2 separate regions of the Homo sapiens genome follow, and region 1 is linked to region 2. Evidence: fine-mapped expression QTL. A gene starts in region 2. The other region holds a variant in brackets. All regions are shown on one strand. Distances are from middle to middle.

What was found.
Region 1: its variant is fine-mapped to the expression of RABAC1 in whole blood (INTERVAL, PIP above 0.99).

Annotation. Positions count from the first base shown.
Region 1 is chr19:41,935,998-41,938,895 of GRCh38, forward strand. No RefSeq gene overlaps it. Among named protein-coding and RNA genes, the nearest start is that of ERFL, 9.0 kb to the left of the region's middle. RefSeq lists enhancers at 1,610-1,679, 1,700-1,769. The variant G/A (reference allele first, on the strand shown) is at 1,646.
Region 2 is chr19:41,958,171-41,961,068 of GRCh38, forward strand. RABAC1 (Rab acceptor 1) reads right to left here and starts at 1,151. Exons shown (of 5, transcript NM_006423.3): 1 at 1,067-1,151; 2 at 566-778; 3 at 116-213. The coding sequence starts at 1,122. RefSeq lists silencers at 359-428, 879-1,128 and an enhancer at 1,239-1,528.

The sequences.
Region 1 (2,898 bases), 22 kb before region 2:
GAGGCGGCCGCAAATCACTCATGAAAGATTCATCTTCTCCCAGGCAGCCGCCACCGCCCGCCTCCAAGGCTGCCCGCCCCAGCCGGGAAGCCTCAGGGTGGGGGTGGGGGTGGGGCAGCACCCCTGCTCACTCTGGGGAGCCCCAGCCCTAGTGGTCTGGGGAAGTTCTTCCCACTGTCTCGCCTCAATCCTACAGGTGGTCTCAGAGACTAGAACCCTGGATCCCTCGGCCTTCCCTGGACAGCATGACCTTAGCCCTGTCCCTGTCCCTCTCTGGCTGGGGAATCCTTGCCCTCTCTGGGGTCCATCTCTCCAGTTACCTTCCTGGACCAGCCTGGACCTTTGGGACATGGAAGGGGCTGCTCAGAGTTGGGGGATGAGGTCTGGGAGCCTCCTCCCCGTGCAGTGGGGCTTTCTGGGTTCTTGATCCAAGAGTGGGGGTGGTGTCTGGGGGCTGAGTCAGAGGGAGGTGGCCGCTGTGTCAGGATCAGTGCAAATGGGCAGACAGGGAGTGTGTTCCCTGCCACTTGGGAGCTCAGTGTGTCTCTGTGTCTGCCTGCATATATGACTGTGTATCTTCTGTCTCGCTCTGCCCATGTTGGTGTAACTTGCTTTGCGATTGTCCCTGTGTCACTACACTCAGGTCTCGGTGACCCTGCGTGTGACGGTAACTCTGTGGGCTTGTGGGTATGTCTGTCTGCCTGTCTGGCACTTTCTGTATGTGCGTCCTGTGGGCAGCATTTTTGTGTGGTGTGTGTCTGTATCAGTGTGACTTTTGGGGTGTGGCTGTGTGTGACTCCCTGTGTGTAAGTCTGTGGATGACTGTGTGCCGTGTCTGTCTGTCTGTCTGTGTGTTGCCTGCTCTGGGTCTGTCTGCAGGTCTGTGTTGAACTATTTCTGTGTCTGGGTCTCTTTTCTGCATCCGCATGTCCCTGTGTCTCTTTCAGCCTCTGTCTCTGTCTCTGCCTGAGGGGGCACCTGCTGGGGCCACTAGAGGAAGGCCTGGGTGCGGAGAAGCTGGGGAGAGAGGAGGCAAGAAAGACGGAGAGACAGGACAGCGGTGACGCCTGAGAACCAGGGAGCAGGGAGCAAGCGCGAGGGAGCTGGGGGGGCCGTTGTGGGCGCCACGGCCGGAGTGGGTGATCAATATTCGATTTAGGTTTTAATTCCGGGGCTTTTGGAGCCTGTCAGCCCTGATGTATGAGCTCACACTGGGGCCGCCCAGCCAGCCACCCCACCAGTGCCCATGGCCTGGTGGCCTGTCCTGGGCTCCCTGGCCCTGCCGGCGGTGGACTATAGGAGAGGGGGGAAGGGGAGAGGGGCCCAGTGAACTTGAGCTTGGTCCCTTGCCCACCCAGTGCACCTATGGCCCCTGCTCCTGCCTGGCCTGCCAAGCAAGGGGCCCCTAGAGGTCCTCAAACACCTGGTCGGGTCCCACAGCCTGCCTGTCTGCATGGACCTCATGTTCAGACACACACATAGCTCTGGGCTCATATATGCCTGTGCCCATGCAAACTCTAACACATACACCCCGGGTTCAAACACACATGTGCACACACAAGCCACCATGCATCTCCTCTGACATACATGTGTGTCCACATACAAACTCTGACACACATACGTGGTCCACACACATAACCCCAAC[G/A]CATAGACACATAAAAGCACCACATGAACCGGAGGTGGGAACCCTGGGGACACAGCATTCTGGCAAGAGAGGCAAGAGACGGAGACACAGAAACTCAGACGGGCTAACAGTGAGAGATGAGAGAGACGGACCAGTGAAGAGCTCAGAGAAGAGCTTGAGAGTGGGGACAGACGCGGAGAGCCCCCGAGGGGAGGTTGGAGGCCACAGGGCAGAGCAGTGGACAGGGCTCAGCAGTGAGGGGGATGGGAGCCCCCCCAAACCCTGTCTCTTTCTCAGGAAGATGGATCCACCGCCCTCCCTGATGACAATGCTGTCTGCGCAAACTTTAATTAACACTTTGAGTTAATTAGTTCGAGATCATTTAGGAGTAAAATGTTTTTATTAGGGAGGCTGCGAGCCTGTTGATGGATGGGGCGCGATTCGCTCTTCCGCCTGCGGGGACAGCCGGTAAACAGAAATCAATCAGGGGCCTCCCAACCCAGCCCCCCCAGAGCCAAGCTCCCAGCCTAGAGCCCAGGAGTGGAGGCTCCCAGCCTCCTCCTTCCCCCAGGCCCCAGATTTCAGGCCCCAGCCCCTCCTCCCTCAGACCCAGGAGTCTAAAACCCCAGCTTCCTCTTCCCCCAAGACCTACGAGTCCAGGCTCCCAGCCCCTCCTCCATTAGGCTCACGAATCCAAGCCCCCAGCAGTCTCTTCCCTCAGACCCAGGAGTCCAGGCACCCCTGCAGCCTCCTCCCTCAGACCCAGGAGTCCAGGCCCCCAGCAGCCTCCTCCCTCAGTCTCATGAGCCCAGGCCCCAGCCTCTCCTCCCTCAGACCCAGGAGTCCATGCCCCCAGCCTCTCCTCCCTCAGACCCAGGAGTCCAGGCCCCCAGCCCCTCCTCCCTCAGACCCAGGAGTCCAGGCCCCCAGCCCCTCCTCCCTCAGACCCAGGAGTCCAGGCCCCCAGCCCCTCCTCCCTCAGACCCAGGAGTCCAGGCCCCCCAGCCCTTCCTTCCTCAGACCCAGGAGTCCAGGCCCCCCAGACCTTCCTCTCCCAGACCCAGGAGTCCAGGCCCCCAGCAGCCTCCTCCCTCAGACCCAGGAGTCCAGGCCCCCAGCAGCCTCCTCCCTCAGTCTCATGAGTCCAGGCCCCAGCCTCTCCTCCCTCAGACCCAGGAGTCCAGGCCCCCAGCAGCCTCCTCCCTCAGTCTCATGAGTCCAGGCCCCAGCCTCTCCTCCCTCAGACCCAGGAGTCCAGGCCCCAAGCCCTCCTC
Region 2 (2,898 bases):
GGCTTGGGCGGACTTGGGTTTTGAAGGACTTGGATTTGGGGTCTGAGGTCTGTCTGCATTCCAAAAGACCAAGATTTGAGGGACCAAGGATTCATCTGGGCAGGGGGTTTCTCACCAAAGAGCACAAGCTTGGACTCCAAGGTGCGCAGATAGAGAATGTAACAGGCGCCGAAAAAGACAGCCAGAGCCACCAGCAACATAGGGGACGTCACCCTGGAGGAGGAGTGCAGGGAGGCAGCGGTTAGACAGCTGGGGCTGGGCCAGCCCGACGGCCCTGGCCTTCTCCACCGGCGGGCGGCAAGCTACATCCTGGAGACCAGGGAGGGCCAGGTGACATTTAGTCACACTGCATCCTGGCCAGGGTGATGGTGGGGTAGGGGACCTGGCCCTTTGGTGACAAGGTAGTCTAGCAGAGCCAATCCTTGGGGGCGGGGCCTGGGCGGTGAGAAGAGGGCCCTGGGCGGTGAGAGGAGGGACCGGGCGGTGAAGGGCGGGGCCTGAGCGGCGAGAGGAGGGGTCCAGCCGGTCGGGGCTAGTGCGGGTGCGGGGCCCGGGAGGCACTCACACACAGTACAGGATGAGGCCCAGGAACACGAACACATAGTTGCTCTGGTAGTACTCCACGTTGCGTACGAGGCGCTGGCACAGCTCTCCCAGGTTGCGGGGCCGTGAGAAGCGCTGCTGGTCCACGAAGGTGCTCCAGGGCCGGATGGTCGCGCGGCGCCGCTCCAGCCACTCCCGGCCTGCACCGGAGGGAATCAGCTTCGGCAGCAGGGTCCTGCGGGGGGTGGGGCCGGGTCAGTGGTGGACCGGGATGGAGCCCCAGACCCCCGCAAAAGAAGGGGACTAAGGGTGCCTGGACTCCCTCCCGGGACCCCAGATTCCTGTACAGCAGGCAGGGAGGGGACTAGGGGCCCAGACTCCAGGGTCCCATTAGAGGAGACCGGGGCCAACACTTCTGCGGCTCGGGGCTGGGACTCCAGGCTCTCGAGGGAGGAGGGAGGAGGGGGCCGGGGGCCCGGACTCCCGGGTCTCTGGTCCGAGGGCCTAGAGCCAGCTCGCTCACGTGCCGCTCAGCCCTTCCGCCTCGGCATCTTTCTGCTGGTCCTTCTGCGCTGCCATGTCTGCGTCGTGAGGGGTAGAGCTGCTGTAACCAGCCCGGTACCCTGAAGACCCCGCCGGCCCCGCCCGACGCCGGCCCCACCCAGCGGAGTCGACGTGGCGCAGCCCCGGAGCAGCTGGGGACTGTAGTTCTGCCGCCGAGTATTGTGGGAGTTGTAGTCCTGACGGTGACTAAGAGGATGGGCGCTATGATGGCGGTCTGACTCGCAAAACACCTTGGGAGATATAATCCCAGAAAGTGACGGCGCGCGCCTCTGGGTATTATAGGAGTTGTAGTTTCAGGAGGGTGCATGTGGGCTGTCAGGAGCGAGGGCGTTATGGGAACTCTAACGGCAGAAGCGGGCGTTGTGTACTCTCCCAGGGAAGGCACAATGGGGACCGTGCAGAGCTGTCCTTCTGACTCTAGAGGGCATAAAAAAACACCTGGAGGGCTTGCTAAAACAGATTCCTGGGCCCTAGCCCAGATGTTTTCATTCAGCAAGTCTGGGGTGGAGCCCATAATTTCCATTTCTGAGTTCCCAGGTGATGCTGATGCCCCTGGTCCATGGACTACATTTTGAGTAGAAAGATTTAGATAATTTGTGGGAATTGATTCCTTCCTCAAGAGATTGAGGCTAGTGAGGGGGCCATGGTTGCTGGAGGGGTATCTGAGGTTGCCCCCTGCCCCACCTTGTGGAGTCCCAAAGATGAATGAGTTGGGGCTAGGGACACCTCCGACCCCGCCACACACACCTTTGGAGAGAAGGGAGTGAAGTTGGGAAAGACAAAAGGTTGAGAAGTTTTGTGGGCTTTTTTGAAATGGAGTCTCGCTCTTGTTGCCCAGGCTGGAGTGCAATGGCGCAATCTCGGCTCACTGCAACCTCTGCCTCCTGGGTTCAAGCGATTCTCCTGCCTCAGCCTCCAGAGTAGCTGGGATTACAGGCGCCCGCCACCACGCCCAGCTAATTTTTGTATTTTTTTAGTAGAGACGGGGTTTCACCATGTTGGCCAGGCTGGTCTCGTACTCCTGACCTCGTGATCTTCCTGTCTCAGCCTCTCAAAGTGCTGGGATTACAGGCGTGAGCCATTGTGCCTGGCCCACAGGGCTGGAATTCTAATTGAATTCTAATGGGGTGAACCAGAACAGGGCCTCAAGAAATGTGTGTGGAAGTATAGGGAAGCCTGGGCTCCCTTAAGCAGACTGGGATCCTAATTTTCCAAAGCAGCTGGGTGGGGCTGGAAGGAAAATATCTATATGGGATAACCAGGTGACCTTTTTTTTTTTGAAAATTTTTTTAAGTAGATAAGGGATTTTGCTGTGTTGGCCCAGTAGGTCTCAAACTCCTGGACTCAAGCGATCCTTCTGCCTGGCCTTCCCAAGTATTGGGATTACAGGTGTGAGCCACCATGCCCAGGTTCAAGTGACTTTTTTTTTTTTTTGAGACGGAGTCTCACTCTGTCGCCAGGGCTGGAGTGCAGTGGCACAATCTTGGCTCACTGCAACCTCCACCTCCTCCTGGGTTCAAGCGATTCTCCTGCCTCAGCCTCCCGAGTAGCTGGGATTACAGGCGCCCGCCACTATGCCCAGCTAATTTTTTGTATTTTTAGTAAAGATGGGGTTTCACCATGTTGGCCAGGCTGGTCTCGAACTCCTGACTTTGTGATTTGCCCGCCTCGGCCTCCCAAAGTGCTGGGATTACAGGTGTGAGCCACTGCGCCTGGCCCCAAGTGACTCTTTTAGGCCCAGCTCTTGTCTTCCAAGATCTACAGCAGTTTAGGGTTTGTGCTTTGAGGCCT